Linked DNA regions of Homo sapiens: region 1 is linked to region 2. The links come from fine-mapping of genetic effects on gene expression. A gene starts in region 2. The other region holds a variant in brackets. All regions are shown on one strand. Distances are between the middles of the regions.

Region 1 (16,105 bases), 51 kb before region 2:
CAACATGGTGAAACCCCGTCTCTACTAAAAATACAAAAAAGATTAGCCCGGGCATGGTGGCGGGTGCCTGTAATCCCAGCTACTCAGGAGACTAAGGCAGGAGAATCGCTTGAACCCGGGTGGTGGAGGTTGCAGTGAGCCGAGATCACGCCATTGTACTCCAGCCTGGACAACAAGAGCAAAACTCCGTCTCAAAAAAAAAAAAAAAAAATTCCAAATCATTTGGTGCTGATTTCTGACAAATTGGGAAGGCAGCAATCTGATTAAGCCAATTCACTCATTAATCTTCCCACAGGTACTAACTTTTAAAAAGATGTTACACAATAAAAAGGCAGCTATTTTCAGATATGGTGAGGAAGACATTTGGTGGTAGAGGGTCTTCTCGGCTCTCATAAACTATCTGGTACTAATAACATTTATCATACTTAGACTGGACTAAGATGTGCCAGGCAACAAGCTAAGTGCTTTACATCATTGCTATTCAAAATGAGGTCCACAGACCAGCACCATCTGATCAACTGGGAGCTTACCAGAAATCCAGAATCTTTGGAAGGCTGAATTGGGAGGTCTGCTTGAACCCAAGAGTTCCAGGCTGCACTGAGCTATGAGTGTGCCACTGCACTCCACTCCAGCCTGGGCAACAGAGCAAGATCCTGTCTCTTAAAAAAAAAAATAAATGCAGATTCTTGGGCACCACTGAAGATTTAGTGAATCAGAATCTGCATTTTAACAAGATCCCCAGGTGATTCCCATGCACTTTAAAGTTGGAGAACTGCTTTACCCAACTTACCATGTTTTTTTTTAAATTATACTTTAAATTCTAGGGTACATGTGCACAACATGCAGGTTACATATGTATACATGTGCCATGTTGGTGTGGTGCACCCAGTAACTCATCATTTAACATTAGGTATATCTCCAAATGCTATCCCTCCCCCCTCCCCACATCCCACAACAGGCCCCAATGTGTGATGTTCCCCTTCCTGTGTCCATGTGTTCTCATTGTTCAATTCCCACCTATCAGTGAGAACATGCAGTGTTTGGTTTTTTGTCCTTGCGATCGTTCGCTGAGAATGATGGTTTCCAGCTTCATCCATGTCCCTACAAAGGACATAAACTCATCATTTTTTATGGCTGCATAGTATTCCATGGTGTATATGTGTCACATTTTCTTAATCCAGTCTATCATTGTTGGACATTTGGGTTGATTCCAAGTCTTTGCTATTGTGTATAGTGCCGCAATAAACATACATGTGCATGTGTCTTTATAGCAGCATGATTTATAATCCTTTGGGTATATACCCAGTAATGGGATTGCTGGGTCAAATGGTATTTCTAGTTCTAGATCCCTGAGGAATCGCCACACTGACTTCCACAATGGTTGAACTAGTTTACAGTCCCATCAACGGTGTAAAAGTGTTCCTATTTCTCCACATCCTCTCCAGCACCTGCTGTTTCCTGACTTGTTAATGATCGCCATTCTAACTGGTGTGAGATGGTATCTCATTGTGGTTTTGATTTGTATTTCTCTGGTGGCCAGGAGGGATTAAAGACTTAAATGTTAGACCTAAAACCATAAAAACCCTAGAATAAAACCTAGGCAATACCATTCAGGACATAGGCATGGGCAAGGACTTCATGTCTAAAACACCAAAAGCAATGGCAACAAAAGCCAAAATTGACAAATGGGATCGAATAAAACTAAAGAGCTTCTGCACAGCAAAAGAAACTACCATCCGAGTGAACAGGCAACCTACAGAATGGGAGAAAATTCTTGCAATCTACTCATCTGACAAAGGGCTAATATCCAGAATCTACAATGAACTCCAACAAATTAACAAGAAAAAAACAAACAACCCCATCAAAGAGTGGGCGAAAGATATGAACAGACACTTCTCAAAAGAAGACATTTATGCAGCCAAAACTTACACATGAAAAAATGCTCATCACTTACCATGTTTTTTTATCCTCACTATAACTCTATGATGTACATCTAGCAATTATGCTTTAAGTTTTTATTAGTTCAACCATTAACGATCACCTATGTCTCTTATTTACCTAGTGGTAGTTATGGAAGGAAGAGGAGAAAAGATGTCATTAGTGTACATTAACATAAATTTACTTATGTTCTACATCCTGTTTTCTTCCTACTTTGCCAACTTTCTGTCTTAAAAAAAATAGACAATGGATTTCCATGTAGTCCAAATAACTGAGATGAACTTTGGGAGGCTGAGGTGGGCAGATCACCTGAGGTCAGGAGTTCAAGACCAGCATGGCCAACATGGTGAAACCCCATCTCTACTTAAAAAATACAAAAAGCCGGGCATGGTGGTGGGGGCCTGTAATCCCAGCTACTAAGGAGACTGAGGCAGGGAGAATTGCTTTAACCCAGGAGGCGGAGGTTACAGTGAGCCAAGATCCCGCCTCTGCACTCCAGCCTGGGTGACAGAGTGAAACTCCATCTCAAAAAACAAAACAAAACAAATAATAATGATAATAAATAGGCAGGGTGCAGTGGCTCATGCCTGTAATCCCAGCACTTTGGGAGGCCAAGGCGGGCAGATCATTTGAGATCAGGAGTTCAAGACCAGCCTGGCCAACGTGGTGAAACCCCATCTCTACTAAAACTACAAAAATTATCAGGGTGTGGTGGCAGGTGCCTGTAATCCAGCTACTCGGGAGGCTGAGGCAGGAGAATCACTTGAACCCGGGAAGCAGAGATTGCAGTGAGCCGAGATCATGCCACTGCACTCCAGCCTGGGCAACAGGAAGAGACTGTCTCAAATAATAATAATAATAATTAATTAATGAGATGAAAAAACATAGGTACAGAGTTAATATGAATATTACAAAGGATTCCCAGAGCAAAGAAGGTAGCCAATACATAAAATGAAAGGTACCAGACTCCTATGGTAGAAGCTGGGCCTAGACATAATTTAAGTTTTTATTCAATACACATAAGGCTCACTACAGCCCTACTCTCTCTTCCACCCTATACAGAGCTCTTGGTAGGGATCCCATAGCTGGAGCCATAGGTCTTCTCCCCATCCCAATGGACAAACAAAAGAGATACTTTATGCCATAAAAAAAAAAAAAGAACTAAAATATAATCAGAGTAGTTCCTTGGGCCAAGAATAACCTGTATTTTGCTTTTCTATGAGACAGCATGGTAGTACAACCTGCTGCTCCTGCAAGAATACCCCTTAGAGATTTTGCATCCTGGGAAATCATCCAGTCCAAGGATGAAAGTAGACCAGTACAGACTCGGGACAGGAAGGGGTGGCTAAGAAAAAAAGGGAAATCAGTGGCATGCAAAACCATCTCATTAGAAAGATGAAACTGAGGAGTAAATTGCTGATTACCTGAAAACAAGAAATCCAAACAAGAAAATATTATGTTCATTAAGAAAGACCACAATATATCTATAAAACTTTTATTAAAATTGGAATTAGAAACTATACCAAAAACTTTAAAAATACATTAAGACATTGTTCTTTTTTCTTACAGAAAAGAGGGTGAAAATAAGACCCATGGCAAAGAGCCATCCCTGATAATTTTGTTCCTTTCAAACATTCATGAACATTTAAATAAAATTACAAATATTTAAATAACCCTAAGGTATTACCCACAGGCTAAAACTTGCCAGTAATTCCTTAGCCCTGCTATTTCAATATCAATTCCACAAACATGGAAAATTATGGTAACTGCAGGCTGTAACAGTTTCTAATATTCACATTATGAACTATTTGTTATGTTGTCATAAGAATGTGCTCATGCTATAGGCAAATTCAGAGGTGATTTCACCATTTTCAAATTATCATCAAGAGTGTGAAAGAGGAAGATGACACACACGTGGGATGGTGTGGAAATCCAAAGCCCCACATTTTGGGAGTCTGTGACCACTCCCATCTGCCACTAAAGCTACGAGTTGGTGTTGGCATGAATCTGCTTTGTTTATTCCCAGCAGGCTCTGGCTCGTGTCACATAAGGCACCAACATCCTTTTCAAGGTAGTAACCATCTAGAATCAACTCAATTGTAACCTGAATTCATAAGCTTAAGTCACCAAAAGACATCACTGGGTCATAATTATATAGGTTCCCCTAAAAAAATAAAAAAAAAATCAATTTCTGCTATGTAGAAAAAGAAACAAAAGGTTTAGGTGCCTTTGCCTTGTGCAATGGATATTTCATATGTTTATTAATTGGTTTCAGTTAATATGTAATATGAAGGCATGATAAATGTGTCAAACTGTTCTCTTGTTTCAGATACAATTCTTGGCATTTCAATATAGGTTATTATCTCATATGTCAGACTTGAGTCCAGAGAATACTAGAAGGACATTTAATTTCCTTTCCTCCTCCTTCCTTTCACTACTCAATTCAAAGAAAAGTTATGAGTACACAGCTAGGAACCATTTTTACGTAGGCATCCATCTGAGCCCATCTTGTTTTTTTTTTCTAAAACAACAAAAAGACTAAGGACAATTACATAATGCATTCCCAAGCCTTTTATGGATATCAGGGCCTGGGGGGACTATCTGGCCTATTTGGGTTCTTTCATTCACCAAAATTCTATTATACATGCCAAGGGTTAAAGGGAACACCATCAGTCAAGAGACGGCTGGGCCCTAGAATGGAATCTATTAGCATAAAATGGAACAGTGGGACCCAAAGAGCTATCAGCAAAATTCCCTTTGTAACAGACGTAAAAATCATGAATTTGAGGGGAAAAATAAACTAGTTTTGGTGGGATGCAGTGGCTAACAGGAATTACTTATTAGAAGGTAATGAAGTTGCTAAATTTTCCTTGTTTTTGATCCCTGTGTTCTGTTGGTCTCTTGAAGCAATCTGAGTGGGAAAGGAAAGTGAAAGAAATGTTTTATGCCAGCTGCCTCTTGTATTCCCATTAATGGGAGTCTCTACATTAATGCTCTACATAATTTGGTCAGACTGATGAGAGGCAATAGATTTCCAATGCTGATGAGATCCAGAGCCCTGGAGCCCATTTATGGCTTGACATTCACCCAGCAAGACGCTGACGTGGCAGCAAACACGGCTCCAATGTCCAGCTTACCTCATAGTTATCCCTTCAATCCTTCTTGATGAGATTGGTCTGAGAGATGAGACTGTACTGAAATCACAAGAGCTATAACTGCCAGAGAAAAATTAAATGGGGTCTTCAAGTAGTGACTGAGCCAGCAAACTAAGTGGCCAAGAGGGAGACAAGAGCAGCTCCTAAAGAAGGTTGAAGTCAAGCAATCTCCGGAACACAGAGGATCTGAAGCATCTGGGCAGAGCCACAGGCAGGCAGGGCAAGGACACACAGCACACCAGAGCAGCACCGTCCTTCACTGTGTGAGAGCAACTCTCAGGCTGCAGAACCAATTGCCATCTCCACTGCCTACAGCTCAGGTCTCCAACTACCAGATAGGGAGTAAAAAACAGTTTGATTTTATTCACCTCAAGTCTAAACACGGTGGAAAAAAAACTGGTCTAGAGATGGAAACTATATTTCATGGGGGTTTATTAAACAGAGAAAGAGGAGAATCTTTCACAATTTCACAGTGCTTTCTCATTGAAATAAAGACATGATCAGGAAAAGTCACCCTTATAGGCAAGCTATCACCTCCCTAAGTAGGGGAGGCACCAAAATCTCCAGAGAATCCTGAGACCACTTGCACGAGTTGAATTATTTTTTAAAATAAACTTATGCTTAAATATGCTAGGTCTCAATTTCTATAAATAAGGTAAAAAATAGTATATTTCAGAAGTTTTAATAGTTCTTTGTAGAGAGAGAACATTTTACCATGTACATAATTCACAAGGGTATAAAGGTTTCCCAATGTAAAGTTCCTTTTACCCTTCAACTGTAACCCATAGCATCTGCCCAAATACTGCTCATTTTTCACTTTCTACTATATGTCTCTTTCCTGCCAACTGAGGTAGTTGTCACTTAGGACAGTTTAAGGCTCTGGAAAACACTGGTGGAAATAATCAACTGCCCACCTGGAGGGCAGTCTCAGAGCTGACCCTTTGGAAGTCTGCAATGGAGCTAGGCCTTTCAAAATTACCACGCTAAATGGCTGGTCTAAAGGAGTCATTACGGCTTTTTAAAAAATCATCTGCCTTTTTCCATCATCTTGGTGAGCCAGTAAGTCTGGTGCTGTGCGCTTGCCATGACCATCTATCTTCCTGGCTAAGGTAATTACAGACTTTTCCAGGGTATAAGGGTGAAGACCACAAAGAAAAAGAACCAAGTAAATGACAGACACTTGAGAATTTGCTTCCTCACAGATGACATTGCTGGTTTATAAGGGGTACTTTGCAATGGCAAAAGAATCTGAAACTAATGCTACTGCAATAACAGGCAGCATACATCTCAGGTCAGAAACGCAATCATAAATAAGTGTAAGTTCATGGAAACTTGACAGCTGAATGAGCACCCAGAGGCATGAAGATAACCTGGAGCCTATTTCCTGGCAATGCAAATTGTGGCTGCTGCATAACTACAAATTGTGTATCAAGAAACTACATAGTTTCAAGGCTTAAAAATTACCCAGATTTGGGGGAGTATGGGTGGTGAGAAAAGGCTGAAAGGAATGGACAGAGCATGTAGACAAAGGAAGGGAAAGGAAAAGGAGACAGTTTCCTGATTTCATAGCAACTCAAAGATAACATGACCCAATGACAGGAAAATGGAGAACGTATAAAAAGCATCCAAATCCCCTAAACAAGATGACTTCTCCTAGCTAGCAGGAATAATGCTACTCTGAACATACATAGTTCACAGGTAAGGGAACTGACCCTTCCTGAAAGGGCAAAGGCAGGGTAAGGAAGAATGGGAAGAGAAGAATACAAATGTTTTTTAAGATGGAATTGAAAGTTGAATATAATAAAAAGCCCAGTACATCTCACCTGCAGAAGAGCCTACAGGCATGTTCCTAAAGGCAAATAGGACTTTCTATCATATGTATGAGAACTAAATCAAAGCTTAAAACAACAGCTCCTGGGGCTTT[A/C]ATGGATAATCCATATTAATAAATATGTAGGGGCCTAGGGGGTGTGTCACTCTGGAGCACTTGCTGGTTCTGGAACATGAGTTTGTTATGTTTTTTAAAAGACATTCATTTAAAAAACAAAACAATAAAAATCTATTTTCCTCCCAAAACAGTTAAATCAATAATTATTCTAAAGTCACTGAAATAAAAGCTGGAGTGAAGGAGGCTCAGATTTGTGGATTTCTCTCTGGAAGTTGCAGCCTATAGTCTAAAAGCATTCCTGCACTTAACAACAGTTCTTACTTTGGAGAGCCAGCCAGTGACAGAAATGCCATGATTGAATCAACTTTCAAGAAGGAGCTAGAATGCCATGCTAGCTGTGGCCATCCAATTTCTCTGGAAACATAAAAGTGGGCTGTTAGCTTAACCAATGGGAAGTGAACTACCCAGCATTCACTACTTTATCCACTCTCCTTCCTCAGGGATCCCATAGAGACCTCCCATTTCCAAAGGGAGGCCTTTTTAGGCCTCTTATTTCAGTAGGAGAATTTCTACCCTATCTATCTCACTCTGTTTCAAAGGGTTGAAAGCAATTGCACAACACATGCAACATGGACCAAGGCACCAAGCCAGTCCACGTAAAGATAACTGACCACTACCTAGGTTAGAAAGTTGTTCTGTGTGATAGCAGGACACCGAGAATATGAGTCCTCCTCCTCAGAGGATGCTTCCTCATAGATTTCATCCTGGGCAATAATGCTCCCTAATCCATACTCCTGCTCATGGACAGAAACTTCATTTGGCGTGAGGTGGGAAGAGCCTTCCACAAAGTCAGCAAATCTGGAAAAGAGAAGATAATACTCGTTAGAAATATCCTTCTGTCCTTTCTGGTCTTCTTTCAAAATAAGAACAAATTAAAGCCCTCGATATGCTCGCAACTCAAATTATATTAAGTCTAGCCAACATCCTTGTCCTTACTCTGGCAGGTAAGTAGACTAAAGCATGAAGTTAAGGAGAAAAGGAAAGCTGGGATCATAGGCTAATACCCCTGCAACTCCATCCTGCTTAATAAGCACTTGCCTATCCTTTCTAATTATGAAAGTGCCAAGGTTCCTTTAGTCATCTGTAATCCTGATAAGAGAAGATTAAGGGGCATTACAGTTATTCACGTTTATGGCCCTGTAAACTTTATGCCATCATGATTCCAAATTGAAGCTTCACATACTCATTGGTACATTTGCCCCCAACTAAAAAGTGGGTAGGGGGGAACCCTACCAACTCAGACAGCAATGCAAAACTTTCAGAAGGGAAACTTAATATGGTACTGGAGTCTTCCCATCTTAATGCTACAATCAAAGCTAGAGTAGATAGTTCCCTGAGGAAACAGGTTACTGCTTAATGTGTGATTATATATCCACCCTTCTCTTGACTACTTGAAGATTAACAGGAAAACAAAGGTCACAAGTGCACGATTCTCTAGAAGTATGATCTCTGGTAGAACTCAAGGTCACAATTACCCTGATAGATGCTTGGTATATCTGGCCGAGTTTACCTTTTTGGAGACTGGATTCGAGAAACAGTCTTCCAAGCAGAGCAGTCTGGACTGTTACAAAATTCTCGGAGCTCCTCTAAAGCCTTTCGGGTTTCTACCTCTCCTTGTATCCGATATTCTTCTTCTGTCAGGAGACGAGGGGGAACAGGCTTTTCTGCTCCCTTACACACCTTTCTGTGCTCACCAAAATAACATTATGAATCATTAATCAGTAATCTATATCCATCCTTACTTCTAGCTCCCTTCAGTGGGCCAAGAATACAGCAGACAGCCTGAACATTAAGAGTCATCACTCCTAAAAATTCCATGGACATCTTTAGTTATAATGAACTCCTGATACATTAGACTATGAGTGACAATTCATAGGCGACAGAGCGAGACTCCATCTCAAAAAAAAAGTGATATAATTTGCACCACCTTGTGGTAACAGGAACACATGACATTTTACTAGACCTTTTTATTTTATATAAAATGACTAGAATAAAAATATAAAAATGCCTATAGAAAGTAAAAAATTATAGTCAATATTATTCACTAATGTGAACAAACTCACTTTATTTTCCAATAAATGATAAAATACTTACTTATTTTCTAGTAGATGGGAAAATAACAGAAAATCATGGTATAAGACTGTGGTTCTAGCCAGGCACAGTGGCTCACGCCTATAATCCCAGCACTTTGGGAGGCCAAGGCAGGCAGATCACCTGAGGTCAGGAGTTGGAGATCAACCTGACCAACACAGAGGAACCCCATCTCTACTAAAAATACAAAATTAGCCAGGCATGGTGGTGCATACCTGTAATCCCAGCTATTCGGGAGGCTGAGGCAGGACAATCGCTTGAACCAGGGAGGCGGAGGTTGCAGTGAGCCGAGATCATGCCATTGCACTCCAGCCTGGGCAACAAGAGCAAAACTCCATCTCAAAAAAAAAAAAAAACAAAAAAAAACGCCGGGCAAGGTGGCTCACACCTGTAATCCCAGCACTTTGGGAGGCCAAGGTGGGCAGATCACAAGGTCAAGATTGAGACTATCCTGGCCAACATAGTGAAACGCCATCTCTACTATAAAAATGCAAAAATTAGCTGGGCATGGTGGCATGTACCTGTAACCCCAGCTACTCAGGAGGCTGAGGCAGGAGAATCGCTTAAACCCAGGAGGCAGAGGTTGCGGTGAGCTGAGATAGCACCACTGCACTCCAGCCTGGTGACAGAGCAAGACTCCATCTCAAAAAAAAAAGATTGTGGTCCAGTAACTTGGTTTCCCAAACTGAAAGCATCACCTTGACTATCTATAATAGACAACTTCAGGACCTAGTAACATTCCATATTTATTATGCAAGGTGACAAAACATGCTATGAATTACATCTTAAAATAAGACTAAGACCTCCAGAGCAATCTGAAAGCCACTGAGAAATAGTCTGAAATGGGCTGGGTGAGGTGGCTCACGCCTATAATCCTAGCACTTTGTGGGGCTGAGGTGGGCAAATCACCTGAGGTCAGGAGTTTGAGACCACCCTGGCCAACATGGTGAAACCACATCTCTATTAAAAATACAAAAATTAGCCAGGCATAGTGGCGCCCACCCGTAGTCCCAACTATTCGGGAGGCTGAGGCAGAAGAATCACTTGAACCCGGGAGGTGGAGGCTGCAGTGAGCCGAGATCACGCCATTGTGCTCCAGCCTGGGTGACAGAGAGAGACTCTGTCTCAAAAAAAAAATCTGAACCCAGGAGACCTCAATGAGCATACGGTATAAAAGCGATACAATTTGTGGCGGGGCGCAGTGGCTCATGTCTGTAATCCCAGCACTTTGTAATCCAAGCACTTTGGGAGCTCCTCAGCACTTTATGAACTCCTGACATTTGAGGTCAGGAGTTCAAGACCAGCCTGGTCAACATGGGGAACCCTACTAAAAATATAAAAATTAGCTGAATGTGGTGGCGCATGCCTGTAATCCCAGCTACTCAGGAGGCTGAGGCAGAAGAATCGTTTGAACCCGGGAGGTGGAGGTTGCAGTGAGCCGAGATCACGCCACTGCACTCCAGCCTGGGCGACAGAGCGAGACTCCATCTCAAAAAAACAGTGATAGAATTTGCACCACCTTGTGGTAACAGGAACACATGACATTTTACTAGACATTTTATATAAAATGACTAGAATAAAAATATAAAAATTCCTATAGAAAGTAAAAAAAAAAAAATAGACTCGGGAAGGAACAAAAGTGGAAGTACAATACAATGACTTTTCATTAACAAAGAAGCTCCCAGGTCAACACCTCTGTATCCTCTTGCTGCAACTGCATCCCACAATGTACCTGTCAATATTAAGTTACATTGCCTTTCAGTCACCTGCAGGTGATGTACAGCCACTGAATAGGGTGTTCCAGGTTCTTAGTACAAAGAGCAATGATGATAATGGCAAGGGCAATATGTGGTATCTGGATGCCAGAATACATGAAACACAGGCCCATCAGCTGCAAGGTCCAGGTCAGCAGGTTGATACTTCGTTCATTCTCCAAGGGCCCATACTTGTAACATACTGCAAAACTCATGAATCCAACTGTGAGGACATAACCTATGAGAAGAGTTATCAGAAGACATTCTTTTTCATCTATACTTGGTAAAAATAATTTGTGTGGGAAGCAGTAGTTAATTTACTATATAGCACCAATTGAACTAGGAAATCAGATTTTTACTTAATTTTTCACACTTTTTTCTTAGAATATATTTCTCTAAGTTTCTATCCTTTCTGCTGTCCCAAATTTATTTGGTTCAAACAGAACATTAAAGGTACATGTTGAACAACCCTGAAATAGACTATTTTAAAAAACCAATATACAGAAATCCAGATTAATCACCCTTCAAAGGATAACTCAAAGGTTACTATCTATATGACCAAGGATTTTTACTTTGTAAATAAAATCTACAGCAGTTCATTCAGAAATGAAGGAGAAAAAAATTAACTGCGGAGTCTTTTACTTAAGGTCCCCAAGTATATTTAAAATATGATTCCATTAATAAAGTCAACTTACAGCTTTTCAGAAAGATGTTTATTGTGTAAAGAAAGGTATATTTATAAATACCAATAAATGAACATCTTCGCCTTAACAGCACCATTCTAATTTAAGAGAAGGTGATAATTGTAGAGGGATTAGAAATAAGTGAAAAACTATGATTTTTAAAAGTTTAAAAAAATGACATGAACTATTAAATCCCATAAGCAGGCAAAATCTTTTCATGATCAAATTAACTGAAACAGCCTATAAACGTACAAAAGGAAAGCAAAACCGACAACACTTACTTAAAAGATACTGCCAGTAACACCTCCAGATCTCTTGTAAATTTTTAAAAACTAGTTGAATGAGGTACAGAGAAAAAGACCAGCCTCCCACCAGGATGACGTAAATGGGACTTTTCTAAGACAGAGAGTAGAAGTGAAAGCAAAAAGTTACAACAGGCTTTCCATACATAAAAGAAGCAAAATGGAACTATGATTTTTTTTTTAAAAAATTCAACCTACTCAAAATGCACAAAAAACACTTCTCTTAAAAAGATGTCCTTTATACTTAAAATGGTACAGTCTGCAACGAACACTGGGAAGATGAAATGCTAAATAACTTAAAAGCCTGGCTATATAATTAAAAAACAGGAAGCAGACTTTAATCCCCCTCTGAGCACAGGATTTTATATAAAAAGAAAGAATTTGTAATCAGGCTCCAAGTTTCATCGTGGAAAGTACCTTTCTGAATCAAGGAGAGTAGGATATTGACTCATCAGCCATCAATACACATTTTCAGTTTTCTAAGATTACCCAGGAAAACAGTCCTTCAGCTATCCAAATTCATTCTAGCTGCACATGAAGATTCTGATACTTACCTTAGGCATAAACTTAGATAGTATAAAAATGATGATTAGCAGAGAGGCCACAATTCCCACAGTCATCCCAGTAGAGTAGTAGAAAATTTGACTTCTGCAGGAAAAAAATGTATTTCATGACCATATGTATATATTTCATACATAGCACTGTTGAAACTAGGACAACTAACCCAGCCGAAAGATTTTAAAAGGTACAAGATTAGAGCAGTACAAGCATCAGAGACATTTCAAATTTGGTTCCAGACCACTGCAATAAACCAAATATTGCAATTGCAGTAAGTAAGTCACACAAATTTTTTGGTTTCCCACTGCATATAAAAATTGTTTACACTATATTATAGTATATTAAGTGTACAACAGCATTATGTCTTAAAAATATATATTCCTTAATTAAAAATACTTTGCTAAAACCTGCTAAAGATCATCTACGCCTTCAGTGAGTCATCATTTTTTTTGCTGGTGGAGGGTCTCACTTCCATGTTGATGGCTGTTGACTGATGAAGGCAGTGGTTTCTGAAGGCTGGAGTGGCTGTGGCAATTTCTTAAAATATAATGAAGTTTGCTGCATTGACTCATCCTTTCAATGAAGATTTCTCTAAAGCATGCAATACTGTCTGATAGCATTTTACCACAACTTCTTTCAAAACTGGAGTCAATCCTCCAACAGCATTAACCCTTAACAAGAGGATCACCCCTCCTTTGAAGCTAGGCACTGACTTCTCTCTCGCTATCAAAGTCCTCAATGGCATCTTCTTCTAGTATAAGGCTATTTTGTCTACACTGAGGAGCTCTTTAATTGTAGCCACTTTCAACAATGATGTTAGCTAGATCTTCTGAATAACTTGCTACAGCTTCTATATCAGTGCTTGGTTCATCTTTTTTTTTTTTTTTTTTGAGACAAAGTCTCACTCTGTTGCCCAAGCTGGGGTGCGATGGCGTCATCATGGCTCACTGCAGCCTTGATCTACTGGGCCCAGGTGATTCTCCCACCTCAGCCTCCCGAGTAGCTGGTACCATGACTTTTTTGTATTTTTTGTAAAGGCAGGGTTTCACCATGTTGCTCAGGCTGGTCTCGAACTCCCTGGGCTCAAGTGATCTGCCCGCCTCAGCCTCCCAAAGTGCTGGGACTACAGGCCTGAGCCACCACGCCTAGCCTACCTTGCACTTATGTAATAAGACAGCTTCTTTCCTTAAATCTCATGAACCAAGAACCTTCACTAGCTGTAAACTTTTCTTCTGAGGCTTCCTCACCTCTCACCCTTCACAGAATTGAAGACAGTTAGGGTCTTGCTCTGGATCAGCCTTTAGCTTTAAAAAAGTTGTATCTGGCCGGGCATGGTGGCTCAAGCCTGTAATCCCAGCACTTTGGGAGGCTGAGATGGGAGGATCACGAGGTCCGGAGATCGAGACCATCCTGGTTAACACGGTGAAACCCTGTCTCTACTAAAAATACAAAAAAATTAGCTGGGTGTGGTGGCAGGCGCCTATAGTCCCAGCTACTAGGGAGGCTGAGGCAGGAGAATGGCATGAACCTGGGAGGCGGAGCTTGCAGTGAGCCGAGATCACGCCACTGCACTCCAGCCTGGGCAAGAGAGCAAGACTCTGTCTCAAAAAAACAAACAAACAAACAAAAAAAGAGTTGTATCTGGTTTAATCTTCTCAACAGCCAACTAAAACTCTCTCCATATCAGCAATAAGGCTGTTTCACTTTCTTATCACTTGTGTGTTCCCTGGAGTAGCACTTTTAATTTCCTTCAAGAACTTTCCCTTTGCACTCACAACTTGGCTAACTGCTCAGGACAAGAGGTCTAGCTTTCGGTCTGTCTTGGCTTTTGCTGTTCTCACTAAGCATAATCAGAGAGATGTATGACTCTTCCTTTCAGTTGAAGACTCACAATCTACTCTAGGGTTATTAATTGGCCTAGTTTCAATATTGCTGTTTCTCAGGGAATAGGGAGGCCCAAGAAGAAGGGAGACGGGAATAACCAATTGGTTGAGTTGTTAGAACACCCATGACATTTATCGATGAAGTTCACTGTCTAATATGGTTTGGCTGTGTCCCCACCCAAATCTCATCTTGAATTGTAGCTCCCATCATTCCCACGTGTTGTAGGAGGGAACTGGTGGGAGATAATTGAATCATGGGGGCAGTTGCCCTCATACTGTTCTCATGGTAGTGAATAAGTCTCATGAGATCTGATGGTTTTATAAGGGGTTTCCACTTTCACTTGGTTCTCATTCTCTCTTGCCTGCTGCCATGTAAGATGTGCCTTTTGCATTCTGCCATGATTATGAGGCCTCCCCAGCCACCAGGAACTGTGAGTCCATTAAACTTCTTTTTCTTTATAAATTATCCAGTCTTGGGTATCTTTATCAACAGTATGAAAATGAACTAATAGGCTGGGCGCAGTGGCTCACGCCTGTAATCCCAGCACTTTGGGAGGCTGAGGCAGGCAGATCATGAGGTCAGGAGATCGAGACCATCCTGGCTAACACGGTGAAACCCGTCTCTACTAAAAATACAAAAAATTAGCTGCACGTGGTGGCAGGTGCCTGTAGTCCCAGCTACTCGGGAGGCTGAGGCAGGAGAATGGCATGAACCCGGAAGGTGGAGCTTGCAGTGAGCCGAGATCGCGTCACTACACTCCAGCCTGGGCGACAGAGCGAGACTCTGTCTCAAAAAAAAAAAAAAGAAAATGAACTAATATACTGTCTTACATGGACATGTGGTGCCCCAAAATAATTGCAACAGCAGCATCAAAGATCACTGATTATGGATCACCATAACAGTTATAATCATATGAAAAAGTTTGAAATATTATAATTACTAAAATGTGACACACAGACCCCAAGTGAGCACATGCTGTTGGGAAAACGGTGTGATAGATTTGCTTGACCCAGGGTTGCCACGAACCTTCAATTTGGAAAGAAATGCACTATCTGTGAACCACAAAAAAGTGAAGTACAATAAAGTGATGTGTGACTATATTTGCCCAAAACTTGAGGTCAGAGAACTGTAGAGACTGATGCTATGTAGTTACTGCCAGATTATGAAGATTAGGATTAAAGGTCTTCCCTCATGTATTTCCCAATAATCAGCCTTTACGTAATGTCCTATTCACATCCCCATCATCTCTCCCGACCTGAATATTATTATTTTGTCACCCAGGCTGGAGTGCAGTGGTGCAATCACGGATCACTGCAGCCTCAACCTCCTGGGCTCAAGTGATCCTCCTACCTCAGACTCCCAAGTAGCTGGGACTACTGGCATGCACAACCATGCCTGGCTAATTTTTGTATTTTTTTGTAGAGGCAGGGTCTCACTATGTTACCTAGGCTGGTCTCAAACTCTTGGGCTCAAGTTATCCTCCCCCTTCAGCCTCCCAAAGTGCTAGGATTACAGGGGTGAGCCACCACAACCAGCCCCCCATTCCAGATTTTTTCTACCAGTTATTCCTCCCTGTTTCTCTCAGCATCACCAAAATAACAACTTCCAGCAACCCCACTCCAGCCCAACTTCAAACTCCAATTGTTAATCTTGCATTCACTACTCCACAAATACTTTTTACTTGTATACAAACTTAATGTTGATTTTACCTTCATTCAATGTTTATTTAGTTACCTATATATTTTCTTCATATTTGTACATGTCAGTCTCACCTGTCTTAACTAGTAGGTTCCTA
Region 2 (16,105 bases):
TGAATAGCTGGAACTACAGAAATGTACCACCTAATCCAGCTAATTATTTATTTATTTATTTTTGAGACAGAGTCTCGCTCTGTCACTCAGGCTGGAGTGCAGTGGCGCGATCTTGGCTCACTGCAAGCTCTCCCTCCCAGGTTCACGCCATTCTCCTGCTTCAGCCTCCCGAGTAGCTGGGACTCAGGCGCCCGCCACCATGCCTGGCTAATTTTTTGTATTTTTAGTAGATACGAGGTTTCACCGTGTTAGCCAGGATGGTCTCGATTTCCTGACCTCATGATCCGCCCGCCTTGGCCTCCCAAAGTGCTGGGATTACAGGCGTGAGCCACCATGCCCGGCCAATTTTTTATTTTTTGTAGAGATTGGATCTCCCTATGTAGCCCAGGCTGGTCTTAAACTTGCAGGCTCAAGCGATCCTCCTACCTTGGCCTCCCAAAGTGCTGAGTTGTTTTGTTTTGTTTTTGAGACATAGTCTTGCTCTGTCGCCCAGGCTGAAGGGCAGTGGCGCAATCTTGGCTCACTGCAACCTCCGCCTCCTGGGTTCAAGCGATTCTCCTGCTTAGCCTCCCGAGCAGCTGGGACTACAGGCCTGCACCACCACGCCCAGCTAATTTTTGTATTTTTAGTGGAGACGGGGTTTCACCATATTGGCCAGGCTGGTCTTGAACTCCTGACCTTGTGATCTACCCACCTCGGCCTCCCAAAGTGCTGGGATTACAGGCTTGAGCCACCATGCCCAGCCGGACAGGGGTTTCTTAGTGAAGCAAGAAGTTTCCTCAGGGGACTGGCTCTGAGCACTCAGAGAAGTTATTGGACTCACACATCATAATCAAAAAGCTCATGCCATGTTATTAAATGCGTTCTGAAGCTCAATCAGGGCCTCACCGTAGAGAAGTGGTTATTAGTCATCGCTATGGAACCAGACCTCCAGGTTTCAAATACCAGCTCCAACACTTAGCTGTGTGACTGGGACAAACTACTTAAACTCTCTGTCTCAATGTCCTTATCTATAAAATGAGGCTGATAATACTGCCTACCTCATAATGTTATTGTGAAAACCAGACGTGTGTGTGCTGGCACGCATGTGCGTATGTATCATTTAATAGAGTGCCCTGGTCTATAGGAAGTGCTTCCGAAGTGTTTGCTGCTATCCACTACCATTCCCTGCCCTGTGCACTCCATGCTCTTGCTCACCCCCACTCACCCGGGCCCCAGTGTGCATGAATCCCAGACACATGGGGTATGGGGCAGTCACAAGAGGTGAGGGTCCAGGGCCCTTGTGTGTGGCATTGGAGGAGGACTCGGGGTCCCAGATTGGGGCAGGGCTGGGCCACGGTTCACCTGGAGCTGGATGGGGAGTTTGCCGGGGCCAAGTGTGAAGCTGGCAGAGAAGAGCACAGCGCACTTCTCCTCTGTGACAGACTCAGTGCCCTTCCGCTCACACCGCTTGATCTTCTTGAGAAGCTGTGGGTGGGGTGAGGGAGAGCAAGGGCGAGGTCATGAGGACAGAGACCGCTCCTCCTGGGCTTCCTGACATCCTCTCCAAGGAGAGTCCCACAGTCTCCTAGTGGTGCCCCCCTCACTGCACCCCAAAGCCCCTCACCAGGTTCTTGAACAGGGCAGAGCAGCAGTTCCCAGGAATGCTGTTCTCCAAGGGCACAGTGTTGTTGATGATTTCTCCAGTGCTTTCTCTGCCAGGGGAGGTCAGAGTGTGAACGAGCTCATCTCACTGTCGTCAGGTGTGGCGAGTGCATGGGTGAGTGTAGACTACCCACTGTCACCAGCCCTAAATCTCCATGTCTCTGTTTGGGTTCTTAAGGGAGGAGTCCCCATCTTGGCCAAATCATGATGCCCCCACCCCATTCCAGCCCTAAATGGGTCCCTCCCTTTCCTCTGCCTTGACCATTCAGGGTCTCCACATCCCATGGCCCTCCCTCCCCATCCCTTGCTCTTTTCAGTGCCAGCCCTCCAGGCTGCCTCCATCACCCTAACAGCCCTTCTCCAACCCCAGGTCCAATCCCAGCTTACGCTCCAGCCCCAGGACCCTGAGGCACACTCAGCTCCCGCGCCTGCTTCTCTGTCACCATGTCGGCCCTGACCAGCGGAGGCTTGGCTGGGGCCCCCAGGAACCTCAAGCCCAACAGGAATCGAACTCCAGCCTGGAACTTGGTCTGAGTCTTCAGTACCTGGGGGGGCTGCTTCTCCACCAGGAAGCAACTGGGAGTGAGGAGGACACAAGGGGAGTTGGGGGCTAGGTCCCTGCTGGTGCCCTCCCCACAGCTCTAGCCCCCTTCTTTTCTTCCCGAGGTCTGTTCTAGGCCAGACTGGGAGCTCCCGGGGAATACCTGGTGACGAGGGTTCTCAGGACTTCATCCAGCCGGCCAGTCAGCGATGCCCGGGTCTTGGGCTCAAGCTCCCCACCAGCCGCCCCTACCTCCTGCTGTAGCTGGGAATAAATGTCCACCAGGCTTTCACACCTGGGGCCAGGACAGTGGTCAGGGGGCACAGGATTAAGGCTGCTTGCTCCGGCCCAGACCCCCTTCCCCTATACCCAGGGAGAAAGGCTATCATGTGTGGAGAAGTGGGGTGGGTAGTGGGTGTGGCTGCAAGGCACCTGGGCTGAAGGGGGTTCTGTGATCTGTTGGCCTAGGGTCTGGGTGGGAGGTTCATTCTCAGTGCCTACACCCCCTGTGGAAACCCAGCTGCCTCTCCCCCGACGGCTCTTGCACCCAGGACAACTGCCACCACTTACAGTGCTTTGTGGCAAATTGGAAAGTGTTCCCACCCAATAAACCAAATGGAAAAGCCCTCCTATTCCTCTAGGCATGGGGCTTGAGGAGAGAAGCCTGGGTTGGATGAGTCCCCGCTTGTGCCCCTCCACTAGGCCCACTTGTACAGGATGCGACCTGAACGACAGTGTGCACAGCCCCGCTGGAACTGGCTTTTATGCATCTTGGTCCACTCCAAGGCCCTCCCGCCTGGCTTCTTTCTCTCACCTGTAGGGCCTTCAGCAGGGTCAGCTGCCCACCCCCAGCTTGCCCCCTCTTCCCCATCAGCCCTAGCCCAACCTCTCCTGGAGTGGGGCCAGGCTCTCCTCAAACGGTGCGCCATTCCCTGCCAGCTGCTGCTGCCGTTTCCAAATCTGGATCCTCTTCAGCACTAGGGCTTTGGCTGCCTCTAGCTCTCCAGTGGTCTCCTGCAGTAGCATGGCCAGGGCCTATGGGCAGAGAGGGGCCTGAGCCAGGGCCTCACGCTGCCTCCACACCCAGCTCCTGGGATACGGCTCTTTTTCTCACTCCTCTGGCATTCCCTTGCCCTACTTCAGCCTGTGTCTTTCTGAGGTCTAGCTTCCATCCCTCCAGCTGCACTTTGACCAAGGTCTCCACCTGTCAGCCCATTACTCACCTCACTTGGCCCAGTCCCATTAGCAGGAGTTTCTATCAAGCTGTGCAGAGACACTGAGGGTTGGGGGCAGAAATCAAGGGTGCAGACAGATTAGAGGTTCAGATAAGGTTGAGATCCAAGAGGCAACCACTCCTACACACTCCCCAGAACCACCCTGGCCCCCACCTTGGCCAGCCTCAGCCCCCTTCTGCAGGGCTTCTCGGAGAAGGTGGATCTCCCCTACTCGGTGCTGCAGCCTCCGCAAGCCTGTCTTAAACTTGAGTTCTTCCTGCTTCCAGTGGAAAGGCATTGGCAAGTGGCGGAACTACACAGGAAGGACAGATGCCAAGAAGTGAAACACTCTGCTCATCCCTCTATACCTGGCCTCCACTCTCTGCTCTGCAGATAGCGTTTTCTTGTTCCCCTCTCCCCTTTGGCAGTTCTTCCTGACCTTTTGGAATATCGTGGAGATAAGACCTTGCTCCTAGCAGAATCAGCTCCTTATCCCTTGCTCTGTTCTCCCCGGCCTCTTACCTTCAGTCCCTCATAGAAAGATTCCCTGAGCTTGACTTGGGGTTCACTCTGACCCTAGGAACCTCCTTTGGTCATTCCTGGGCCTAGAACACTGAGCCTTTACTGAGGTTCAAATTCTTTCTAGTTTGTCATGGCTCAGGCCAAAGTCTCAGGGGATTGAGTTGGGGTGGGAGGTGGAATATCACAATACCTGTTCCATAACAGCTTTTTTCTCTCCTTGAAGTATTTGTCTGAAAGTGGCCACCAGCTTCAGGGGGTCCCTCTGATATATGCTCTACAGAAATGAGGGTGGTAAACAGTGAGCTTTGCTCTTACCCATGTCCTTCAATCCCTCCAATCCCCAGGCCTGCATTCACACATATACTATAAGGAAGCACAACTGTAGACTCCAGAAGTTTTTGTGCATTTGCATGCTTTTAAAATCTAATTTGCCTGCTAGCTAGCAGTTAACCACAGGAACACCAATTTGCTTCCAGCATCCAACCAATTTTCTTCCAGGGCCCAATGCTCAACCCAGTTCAACCTCAGCCCCACCCAGCCTTGTCCCCTCCCCTCCTGCCCCACCTCAAGGGTGCTGATGTGTTGCAAGATGGTGCTCCCCTCCCCCTGCTCTCCCACCGAGGCCTGAAGGTGCTGGACAGTGTCTGAAAGTAGGGCACTAGCCAAGTTGCAGCAGAAGGCGTCGGAGCCGACCAGGAACTCCCTGCAGGAAGATCAGGATGAGGCTACCTCAGGCCAGGGCTTCCTCAGCTCTCCTGACCCTTTACCCCACAGCCAAAAGCTCAGCAGTTCCTTTCTCGCTCCTTATTCTCCATCTAGGCCCTCTGTAGCTTTCACCCATGCGCCTTGTTTCCCAGTCTTCTAGCTGTTATGAGAAGTGCCTTTGTCCCAGCCCAAACCCCCCTCCTCTTCGGCTCAGCCTCCTAAGAGATGGGGTCTCCATCTGTCAACATTCATAGCCTGGTCTTGATGGGGCACAGACTCCCTGCTAAATCTAGGTCACTACACATGGAATAACAGGTCTCAAGTTCTGAATCCATGGGTGAGGGGAGAAAAATCTAAGGAGAAGGAAGATGAGTTAGGGAAGACTTGGGGGACCAGCAGGGAGCAGCCAGGACTCACCAGGGCTGGCTCTCCAGCCAGTCACCCAGAAGATGCCGCAGGTGTTGGGGAAAGTCGACATAGAGCCGCTGCACTTTTTCTGGGGGCATCTTGGAGACCAGACCCCACAGAGACATGATCTGGGACTTGGAGGTTGCCTGGAGGAGAAAAATAAGGCCACTCTGAGGGGTGCCCAAGAAACTTGGCCTATCTCCTGGGGCAGCCAGGGACCTCCCATAGATAGCCCTCCTAGGGACCGTCCCCACCACCACTCATGGCCAGACCACCTTAAACCAGGGGCATCCTGAGTCAATGCCTGAGATGGGGGTAACTCCTTCAGTGATAGACACAGGGGTGGGAAGAGCTGAGCTGTAGCCAGAGGGATGGGGAGGCAAAGGGAGACAGGGCAGTAGAGCGAGAGCTCTCTTAGAGTGGCAGAGGATTTAGTTGCAGCTCTAGACCTGGCTCTGGTTCTGTGGGCAAAGAGCCTTCCCTTTGTGGGCTTCGATCTTCTCATCTATAAAATATGAGTGTTAGATGAGTGGAAAACTTTCCAAACTTTTTAAAGCGGTAGGCAATGTCAGCTTTTAATCTGTGGAATCTCAATTACATAAAAGGTACGAAACCGAAGATGCCCTGTTGAAAGCAAGCATGGAAAGCCTGAAACTCGACTGCTTCTACTTCCCTCTCCCCACCTCCTGACGCCAAAGGCATCCCTAGACAAACCTCTCAAAATTCTAGGACTCCATGAGATAATTTGAAAACCACAAGGCTCGGCCAGGCGCAGTGGCTCATGCCTGTAATCCCAGCGCTTTGGGAGGCCGAGGCGGGCAGATCACGAGGTCAGGAGATCAAGACCATCCTGGCTAACACAGTGAAACCCCATCTCTACTAAAAATACAAAAACAAAATTAGCAGGGCGTGGTGGCGAGCGCCTGTAGTCCCAGCTACTGGGGAGGCTGAGGTGACAGAATGGCGTGAACCTGGGGGGCGGAGCTTGCAGTGAGCAGAGATCGAGCCACTGCACTCCAGCCTGGGCGACAGAGAGAGACTCTGCCTCAAAATAAATAAATAAATAAATGAAATAAAATAAAAATGAAAACCACAAGGCTAGATGATGAAGAGGATGGGAGAGTAATAACAGCTACTATTTGTTAAGCACTTACTGTGTATGAGGCATTACACTCAGTGTATTATCTCCTTCAGGCCTCACGACACTTTTTAAAATATATAATATCCCATTTTATAGATGAAGAAACTGAGGCTTAAGGAGTTTCTCTACTCTGCCCAAGGCCACTCAGTAAGTGAGTTTGGAAAGCAGGCTTTGAATCTGAGTGGGGATTAACCATCGCACTGTGTTGTTAGGATCCCTTCCAGGGGCAAATCTGATCATCCTAAGAAGTGGGGGAAGGTGGGAGGAGACTTGAAGGAGGAGAGGTGGAAAAGGAAAGTAGAGAGAACTAAGGAAGAGGATGGAAGAGACTGGAAAAAAGGCGGGTTTAGTAAGCTAGGAGGAAAGAGCCTAGAAGAGAGAGGAAGCTGGAGGGCTAGAAGGCAAAGATGAGAGACGAAAACAGGTAGAAAGGAGAGGAGGGGACAGGGAAGTAGAAGAGGGGGTTGCATCCCCATTTCCAGGTTCAGGGAGGACTGGGTAACCAGTGGTTTCCCAGGGGCCTCTCAGTTCACGTTTCTCATAATATCCCTCTCCCAGAGATGAGGGAGAGGATGGGATGACAACTCCCCAGGTCTCCCCAAACCCAGTAACCCCAAGTCCTCCTGTTGCACGTTCAGCCTCTCACCTCTCCCAGGCCTCTCAGAGGGATGGAAAATGGAGAGGTCCCTTCTCTGGACGTTTCTGCTCCAAGACCTTCATGCCCCTCTTTCCTCCAGTGCCCACTTACCCCAGCTCTTTTCTCCTCAAGGCAGAATCCTTACCCCTCCTGCTCAGGTTCCTCCAATAGGCCTTTCTCTAGCCCAAGAGAGAAAGGTCCTCTGGAGTGAGTGGGCACCGCTTTCCTCTGCATCCCCTTGCAGAGTGACCAGCCTCCTGGCATGGCCCTGGCTAGAAATATCCAACCCCTCTTCTTCCCCAGCCATCAGGAGGACACATTTCTCCCCACCCCAACCCATAACAAGGCTGGGTCGATTGGCTTGACCAGGACAGGGGCACCTTTTGTCTTCAGCCCCTTGAAGGGGAAGGGAGGGAGGAGCCACGGCGTGAGGGGCGGGGCCAGTGTTACCTCCCAAACTCAGAAGGGAAGCGCAAGGTCTGGGATCCTCGTCCGCCCGCTTGGTGGCCTAAACTCGCTTATCTCAACCCCTATCTGCCCGAGTCCTCTGATTGTGGGACCACAGGATCGAAAGTTAAAACAGCTTCTCTGAGTTGCCCAATGCGTGAATGTGGCGGTGGGGGCAGGCGGGGAGGTGGAGCCAGTTCAGCACGAGGAGGGTTAACTCGGCGCCGCCGCTGGGAAATCTCAGCGTCTACAGCAGCCAAGCGTGGAGCAGTTTTGAGGGGGAAATTCCCCCTCGTCTGGGCCACCATGAGGTCTACATCTGGGGCTTGCTCACGCCCCAGCCACACCCTTGAACAGGAACCTTTAGTGGAGGGCAGGATAGGGGTTTAACAAGGATCCACTGCCCTCTGGCATCAACCTTCCAGGGAGGGGCGGCCACTTCCCCCGACTCAGGGCAGAGGGGCACTCCTTCACCTCCTTTCCCTGACTTTCCATGGCCCTGGGGGTGCAGGGGTGAGGCTGTGAAAACGTGACCCATGGGGGAGGGGAGTACTGAGGCCTGGACCCTCCCAGATTCCTCCAGGAGTTCGAAACTGCTAAAACCCAGTGCCACCAGCCACCAACACTAGCTGAAACCATCTCTTGGGGACCATCCACCCAGCCAGGGGAGGATCCCGAGAGCTCCCCCCACGAATCCACCCCCATGCACTCATAGAGGCCCCCGCACCCACCTCGGAGGCAACCCCTCACCTCGGCAACCCCTCTGCTGTCTTCTCCCTTTCTCAGCGGGCACTTCCAGGCCCCATAGGTCTGTAGCTCTGTCCAGCGAGTTCAAGGCTGGCCCTGCTAGCACCTCCCCCCTTCCACCACCACCACCAAAAAGAAAAATAAGATAAAGCACACACATACATACACACACACACACACACACACACACACACTCCTCTCCCGTCCTCCCTCTTCAGTGTAAGCAGTGGCTGCCCCAGCCCGCTGTTTCCGGCTTCTCCTTCTACCCAGGTCCCTCCCTGGAGCTCTGACGACACAGAGAAGAGAAAGTGGGCTGGAGGAGGAAGAGGAAGAAAGTGGGGTGAATATGTGTGCCTCCTGTGCCGAGTGGGGGAACACGTGGGGGATCAGGACTGGGGTCCAGGCCTTGGAGCCAGGCTTGGGGGGAGGCTGACCCCCACTTACTCTGTCCCCCTCAAAAGCATCAGCTTTTCTCCAGAAAGTCACCCAATATCAAACAGAGATTTGCCACCCCTAACTGCCTGGCTCCCAAACTCAAACTCTGCCAAGGGCTGGGGTTTGGACCCACAAGGGACTGGGCTCCCCAGGGCCTCAGGAAAAGTAAATCCCTCTGGACTCTGCGCTCCCTCCAGTGGAGGACCCTAAAAAGCCGCCAGGGAGCTCGATGCCAGCCAACTCCTAGGTCCCCCTCCCTTCCGGCAGGGAACGCCTTAGAGGTCGGTCTCGTGACCACTGACGGGAGGGAGTGGGGGAGGGGAACCCTCAGCTCAGAATTCTGGAAGACTCTAGGAGTCCCTTGGACTGAAGCTGGTCTTTGCTCTCTCCTCACAGGGCACCCCTCCTGAGACTGTGGTGGGAACCAGCACAAGCCGGAGCTGCTGCCTGCAGATTCACAAGGGGCAAGTTTGAATACGAATCTGCTGTGTTCCTATCTGCCAAGTTCCTATATGTTTCTGGGGTAAACACTGAGACACGCCAAGAAACAAACACACACATGCACAACTTCCCTGACCACAAGACTACACACACACACACACACACACACACACACACGTGCAGGCAGGCTCACAAACAGAGCCCATTGCAATCACAACACCACACACACACACACACACACACACACACACACACACACACAGTCTTGCTCAACTTCTGAGTCATCAACATAACTAGTGGAGGGTTCTGCAGTTTTTGCTGGGGGAGGAGCTGGAGGAGACCAAGGGATCCAGAGAGGCCTTTACTCCCGGACACCTGAGAGCCCCGGTGTGTGGAAGAGGTGGTGTCTGAGGGGCGGTGGGAGGAAGTTTCTACTCCCCTCCTCCCTCCCATAGCAGGGGCTGGGCTGAGGGGCCAAAGCTAGGCCTATGCTGCCCCCTGGTGCCTGAATTGATTTCCAGAACCAGCTCCTCCTCCTCCATCCCTTGCTACCCCGCAGGTCTGTACATGAGTGCACGTGTGTGGACCCAGCCAGGCAGCAGAGGGTTTGAACACAGCAAAATATAGCAGTTAAAAGACTGGACTGTGGATACAGGCTGCTTGGGTTCAAATCCTGCTAATGCTGCTAACCACACAACCCTGAGCAATTTACTCTGTGATTCATTCTCGTCATCTGTAAAATGGAGCAAATAAGTCTTAACCCATAATGTGAGAATAAAATGCAGTAAAACATCTGAAGGCTTAGAACAATGCCTGACACACAGTAACTGTCAGGCACTATTTTTATGGTTCATAATAAACCAGGTATGAGGAAAGGAGAAGGGTCTCCATCCTACATAGAAGTCCCCAGATTTGGGGGTCATGTTACTGCCAAAAGGATATTGAGGGTGTATGTGCGTATGTGTTTGCTGTGTCTGCAGGACAGTGAATGGAAGAGAAGGGAGAGCAGGGGTGGAGGTGGCAGGCAGGGACTCTGTCCATTGGCTTGTCCAACAAGCCATGCTAGGATCAAGGTGTGTGCACATACGTGTTCACGGCACACGTGCTTTGTATGTGCTCCCGAGTGCCCACTCTGCCTGCAGACATCCACAGACAGTAGGTGAAGCCAGGTTTCACCATCTAAGGGTGTCAGAGCTACAAGTCCCCAAAGACTTGGAGAGGAGGAGGGAAAAGAGTAAATGTGATCTCTGACTTTGGCTCCTTTTAGGGGGTAGGAAGGCGAGGAGCAAGTACTGGTAGAAAAATAGTATATATTACTCCCTCTGTAACTGACTATACCAATGGGAACACTGTGATGTAAGGGGAAAAAACAGAATTTAGAGGCAAATCTGGCTTGGGTATGACTCCATTTAGGAGGTTCACAATCAGGTGTCAATCCCTCAAATGAGAATAATAGTTATACCTACTTCAACAGAGTCTAGGCTAGGGTAAAGTGCCTAGAGTATGAAATTTAAGGAGATACTCATCTTCAGATTGTACAATTGCAGGGTCTGTCAGACCTTCATTAATGACATCTGCACCTGCATGACTGTGAGGGTGACTGTATCACCCTCCCCTGGACCTTGACATCCCATTGAGTGGTGGTAAAGATTGCACAAGAGAGGCTCACGCCTGTAATCCCAGCACTTTGGGAGGCTGAGGCAGGCAGATCACAAGGTCAGGAGATTGAGACCATCCTGGCCAACATGGTGAAACCCCGTCTCTACTAAAAATACAAAAAATTAGTCGGGCGTGGTGGTGCGCGCCTGTAGTCCCAGCTACTCAGGAGGCTGAGGCAGGGAAATCACTTGAATCTGGAAGGCAGAGATTATAGTGAGCCGAGATCAAGCCACTGCACTCCAGCCTGGTGACAGAACAAGACTCCGTCACACACACACACACACACACACACACACACACACACACACACACGATTGCACAAGATAAAGCGTAAGGAAAAAATAACTTTATGTCTATGTACTGCTGGTTACAACCCAATAGTGAGTCACAAAATCGATTTGGTGAGTGTATCAGTTTGCTAGGGCTGCTGTAACAAAGTACTACATATTGCATGACTTAAACAACAGAAATCTCTCAAGATGCTGGAGGCTAGAAGTCCAAGATCAAGGTTAACCTGAGCAGGATTGATTGATTCCTTCTCAGGGATGTGAAGGAAGGCTCTATTCCAGGCCTCCCTCCTTGGCCATTTTCACGTTCACACACTGTTCTCTTTGTATGCAAGTCAGTCTCCAAGTTTCCCCTTTTTTCAAGGATACCAGTCATATTGCATTAGGCCCCATCCTAATGGCCTCATTTTAACTTAATTACCTCTGTAAAGACCCTATAAGGGGGTCCTTCAAAATAAGGTCACGTCCTGAAGTACTTGAGATTAGGACTTCAAGAGAATTTTTGAGGAACACAACTCAGCCCATAACAGCATCTTGATCAAGCACAATGGCTCACACCTGTAATCCCAATACTCTGGGAGGCTGAGGCAGGAGGATTGCTGGAGGCCAGGAGTTCGAGACCAGCCTGGGCAACATAGCAAGATCCCATCTCTACAAAAAAAATTTAAAACAAAATTAAAAACAAAACATAAAAAAAAACAGTGTCTTGACCTTCACTCTTTGAAACTGAAGTAAAGGCCAGGCGCAGAGGCTCATGCCTGTAATCCTAGCACTTTGGGAGGCCGAGGTGTGCGGATCATCTGAGGTTAGGAGTTCAAGACCAGCCTGGCCAACATGGTGAAGCCCCGTCTCTACTAAAAAATACAAAAAATTATCTGGGCACAGTGGCATGTGCCTGCAATCCCAGCTACCTGGGAAGCTGAAGCAGGAAAATCACTGGAATCCGGGAGGCAGAGGCTGCAGTGAGCTGAGATTACACCCCTGCACTCCAGCCTGGGCAACAGAGTGAGACTCCATCTCAAAAAATAAAAAATAAAGTGAATAAAATTAAAAAATAAAACTGAAGTAGAATAGAACAGTACAGAAAATATCAGAAGGCATCAAGCGAAGTAAGGATAAGTATTGTTTAATTAAACTTTTGTTTCAGCTTTATATATGTATCTGAATTCTTTTTTTTTTTTTTTTATTTGAGATGGAGTCTCCCTCTGTCGCCCAGGCTGGAGTACAGTGGCGGGATCTCGGCTCACTGCAACTTCTGCCTCCTGGGTTCAAGCAATTCTCCTGTCTCAGCTTCCCCAGTAGCTGGGACTACAGGCACATGCCATGACACCCAGCTAATTTTTGTATTTTTAGTAGAGACACCATATTGGTCAGGCTGCTCTCAAACTCTTGGCCTCAGGTGATCCACCCACCTCAGCCTCCCAAAGTGCTGGGATTACAGCCATGAGCCACCACTCCCGGCCCTATATGTATCTGAATTCTAAGTCATGATAAAACATACTTTTTAGTGCTGGTTGTGGGGAAAAAAAAAAAAAGCACAGCCATGCATGGTGGCTCACGCCTGTAATCCCAGCACTTTGGGAGGCCAAGGTGGGCAGATCACCTGAGGTAAGGAGTTCGAGATCAGCTTGGCCAACATGGTGAAACCCCGTCTCTAAAAATACAAAAATTAGCCAGGTGTGGTGGCACTGCCCTGTAGTCCCAGCTACTTGGGAGGCTGAGGCACGAGAATTGCTTAAACCCAGGAGGTGGAGGTTACAGTGAGCCAGGATCACACCACTGCACTCCAGCAACAGAGTGAGGGTTTGTCTCAAAAATAATAATAATAATAATAATAACAGAAGCACAATTTGGGTACTGGTGGCCACTACATATTCCTTTGTATTGCTTTTTAATTATTTTGTGGGTACATCTTTCTTCCTCAACAATAACACAAGTTCAAGGAGGGCAAGGACTCATATCATACTGTACACACTGCTGTGCAGCAGCTAGAAAAAACAACATGCATTCTTGGTGGTAAAGATATGAAGGGCTGCAATTAACTGAGTGTCTCCCATGTACTTGGTGCTGGGCTAAATGTTTTATACATACTCTCCTACGTAAGGACTAAACTGATTGATGGATTGATTGCTGGAGCTCAGTACATTTCACAGACAAGACAGTTCAAGAACACTGAATAGTGGACTGTGATTTGTGGAGGATGAGGGAAAGGAGGAGGAGGTCACAAAAGAATTGTGGGAAGCTGCTGAGGGCCCCTAGCCAGCTCTATCTCCCAGGCCTTCACTATTCTCCTCAAGTTTCCATCCATCTTCATACCAACTCATCATTTAATTAGAAAACACCTGTGCTCAAGGCCCCTCCCTTCTGCCTCTTCAGGCACTTGTTCAATTTATTATCCCCTTCATTCTTCAAATCTCCACCCTCCTGCTCTGTAGTTATGACAGCTCTATACTTTCAGCATAAAGCATGTTCGAATCCTTCTCTCTCTCCTCTCTCTCTCTCTCCTCTCTCTCTCTCTCTCATAGAACAGGGTCTCAATATGTTGTCCAGGCTCTCAAACTCCTGAACTCAAGTGATCTTCCTGCCTCGACCTCCCAAAGTTTCGGGATTACAGGCGTGAGCCACCGTGCCCAGCCTGAAATGAATCTTGAAGGGACATAAGAATTATTCAGGCAAAGAACAAGGAAAGCATTAAAGCAGGAAGAAGGTCTAGCATATGCAAAGGCATGGATACCTGTGGGAGCATGGTACCTTCTGGGAATGGGTAGTAATGGGCAATGCGGAGCATTAGAAGATTTAGACAGGTGAGTCATATGATAAGATTTAGTAGAGGGATCAGCCTAGCTGCAATGTGGAGGATGGATTTAAAAGATAAGTTCTGAAGCCAGGAGATCCATTCAGAAGGTTAATAACAACAGAGAGGGAGACGACACAGTTGAAGAGCAGAGGTGAAGCATTGTGGAATGGAGACTGGTTAGGAAGAAAAGTGAAGACATGAGGGGCCAGTGTCAAAGGAAAGAAAGGCAAGAAACTGGAAGTCTCAACAGACTTAAAGACCAGGCTTCCCGGGGGCAAGGGAAAGAAGAGCTGTAAGGCTAGGATGTTGCGGTCAGAATCTAGGGAGTGAGATTTCAGTCCAGCTCTCCTGCAAGGGTGTGATAAAGGTGGTGGCTATGAGAGTGAGTGGCTACAGCAACACAGAGGTAAGTCATTGGAGTCAAAGAGAACAAGGAACCAAGAGGCCAGGGTGTTGGCTGGACTACCTGCCGGAGCACTGAAACCATCTGGGTTTGTGGAAAACTTGAGGTGGACAGGAAGACAGTCAGCTGCTAAAGTCTTCACAGAAGGCCAGGCGTGGTGGCTCATGCCTGTAATCCCAGCACTCTGGGAGGCTGAGGTGGGCAGACTGCTTGAGGCCAGGAGTTTGAGACCAGCCTGGGCAACATGGTGAAATGCCGTCTCTCGAAAAAATACAAAAATTAGCCTGGTGTGGTGGTGCATGCCTATAGTTCCAGCCACTGGGGAGGCTGAGGTGGGAGGATCCCTGAGCCCAGGATGTCAAGGCTGCAGTGAGCCATAATTGCACCACTGCACTCCAGCCTGGGCAACAGAGTGAGAGCCTGTCTCAAAAAAATTAAAATAAAATAAAATAAACAAAGACTTCACGGATAAAGTGACCAGGACATCAGTGGATAACAGCAAAAATAATAACTAACACTTAGTGGGGCTTTATGTGTTACTTCAATTCTTACTCTAAAATTGAAGCACTGTACTTTTTATCCTACAATAATACTATGAGCTAGAACTATGTGCCCACTACAGTAGCTACTAACCACTTGTGGCTATTTCAATTTTAAAATTCAATGCCTCTGATGTATCAGCCACATTTCAAATGTGCAATAGCCATGTATGACTTGTGGCTACTATATTAAAACAGACACGGGGCATTTCCATCATCACAGAAAATTCTATTGGATAGTGCTGATAACCCTCATTTTACAAATGAGGAAACTGGCATGGAAAACTCAGCAACTTGCTCAAGGCTAAGGTGAGAGAGCTGGGATTCAAATCCAGTTAGTTTGGCACCAGAAATGTTGCCCTTAAGCCCTATGTTGCACATCCCAATGGAAGGTGAAATAGTTGGCTCTTAAAGGAAGAGGAATTTGATGTGACTACTGAGGCAAGCACTGGTGGTGCCTATTCAGCAGCCAAGCTTTTCTCCCTTGCTAGCAAAGTCTGGATTTCACACAGGTGTCCCCCTCCTATGTATTCACGGGGTGAATCTAATTGGCATAGCCAATCACAGTATTTCTATTCCCTTGGCCAGTGACCCAATCCTGGCCAATAGGACTTAGGGGGCTTCTGGGAAAGATTTTGTTCTTCTTCAGTGCCATGTTCACTTTTAGGATTGGAATAGCTGCAACCACGTTGCAACTGGGAGGGGAGATACCACCAACCAATGAGGATAAAGTATGAGTGTGAAGAGGTGGAAAACCTTTGATGAATCAACCAGCCCTGGACCTGCTATAAAACTCCTCATTGTTGAGCCTGCTTTAATTGGGTCTTCCATTACTTGCTGCTAAATGCATCCCTAACTAAGACCATGGTGAAGCTATATCGCCACAGGAAATGGAGACTCCAGGGTGGGCTGCCTGCCCATCCTCCCACTACCACCCGCCCTATACACTTGAGAGAATAAGCGATACCTCATTAAAGGAGGAATGTTCTCAAGGAAGGATCAGGTTCCAGACAAGCCAAGAGGGGCCAGGATAATGTGAGCCAGGGGTGGCCCCAGGCTTCAAGCAAGGAGATGGGTGGAGAGCAGTATAACAGTGTTAGGAGGAGGAAGGACTGGACTTAGTGGAGAAGGATGGATGCCAATCAAGGCCTGCCAAGGATGACAGGATGTGAGCAATGGTGGAGTCAGCTGATCTCAAGGCTTCAAATGGAGCCCTCAGGCTGTCAGAGGCTTACTGTGGCCAACCGACCTTTACTTCACAGAAGGACAAGTTAGCCATCCTGGTGAATGGGCAAAGTCAAGCAGCTCTGGATGGAGTCAGCTGTGGTCAGGATTGTGCCTCTGCAAGGAAATCTCAGTTCTCTAATTACTGTCTTGCCTCTCTCCCTTCCCCTGTGCAGCCAAGCATCTTGGGAAAATTATTCATATTCAGTCTTCTCTTCCTTACTTCCTCATTACACTGCCAGCTGGCTGCTGCCCCCACCAGTCATGAAACTGTCCTGGCCCATGTCACATACACCCTCCTAGGGGCCTTGAAT

What was found. PIP is the estimated chance that this variant, and not a neighbour inherited with it, causes the effect.
Region 1: its variant is the best candidate, but not a certain one, in a credible set for the expression of STAT6 in whole blood (TOPMed, PIP 0.57).

Annotation. Positions count from the first base shown.
Region 1 is chr12:57,052,224-57,068,328 of GRCh38, forward strand. NEMP1 (nuclear envelope integral membrane protein 1) reads right to left here. Exons shown (of 9, transcript NM_001130963.2): 5 at 12,423-12,516; 6 at 11,848-11,962; 7 at 10,896-11,121; 8 at 8,549-8,722; 9 at 3,420-7,836. The coding sequence ends at 7,656. Among named protein-coding and RNA genes, the nearest start is that of MYO1A, 10 kb to the left of the region's middle. The variant A/C (reference allele first, on the strand shown) is at 7,018.
Region 2 is chr12:57,103,120-57,119,224 of GRCh38, forward strand. It overlaps STAT6 (signal transducer and activator of transcription 6), which reads right to left and starts at 8,243. Exons shown (of 22, transcript NM_003153.5): 1 at 8,010-8,243; 2 at 5,044-5,180; 3 at 4,486-4,624; 4 at 4,112-4,195; 5 at 3,574-3,712; 6 at 3,409-3,461; 7 at 3,072-3,220; 8 at 2,349-2,480; 9 at 2,032-2,220; 10 at 1,607-1,694; 11 at 1,345-1,467. The coding sequence starts at 5,159. LOC124902946 (a long non-coding RNA gene) reads left to right here and starts at 7,603. Exons shown (of 2, transcript XR_007063334.1): 1 at 7,603-8,722; 2 at 8,838-9,760. RefSeq lists enhancers at 7,369-8,316, 8,317-9,262, 15,830-16,019 and a silencer at 9,302-9,461.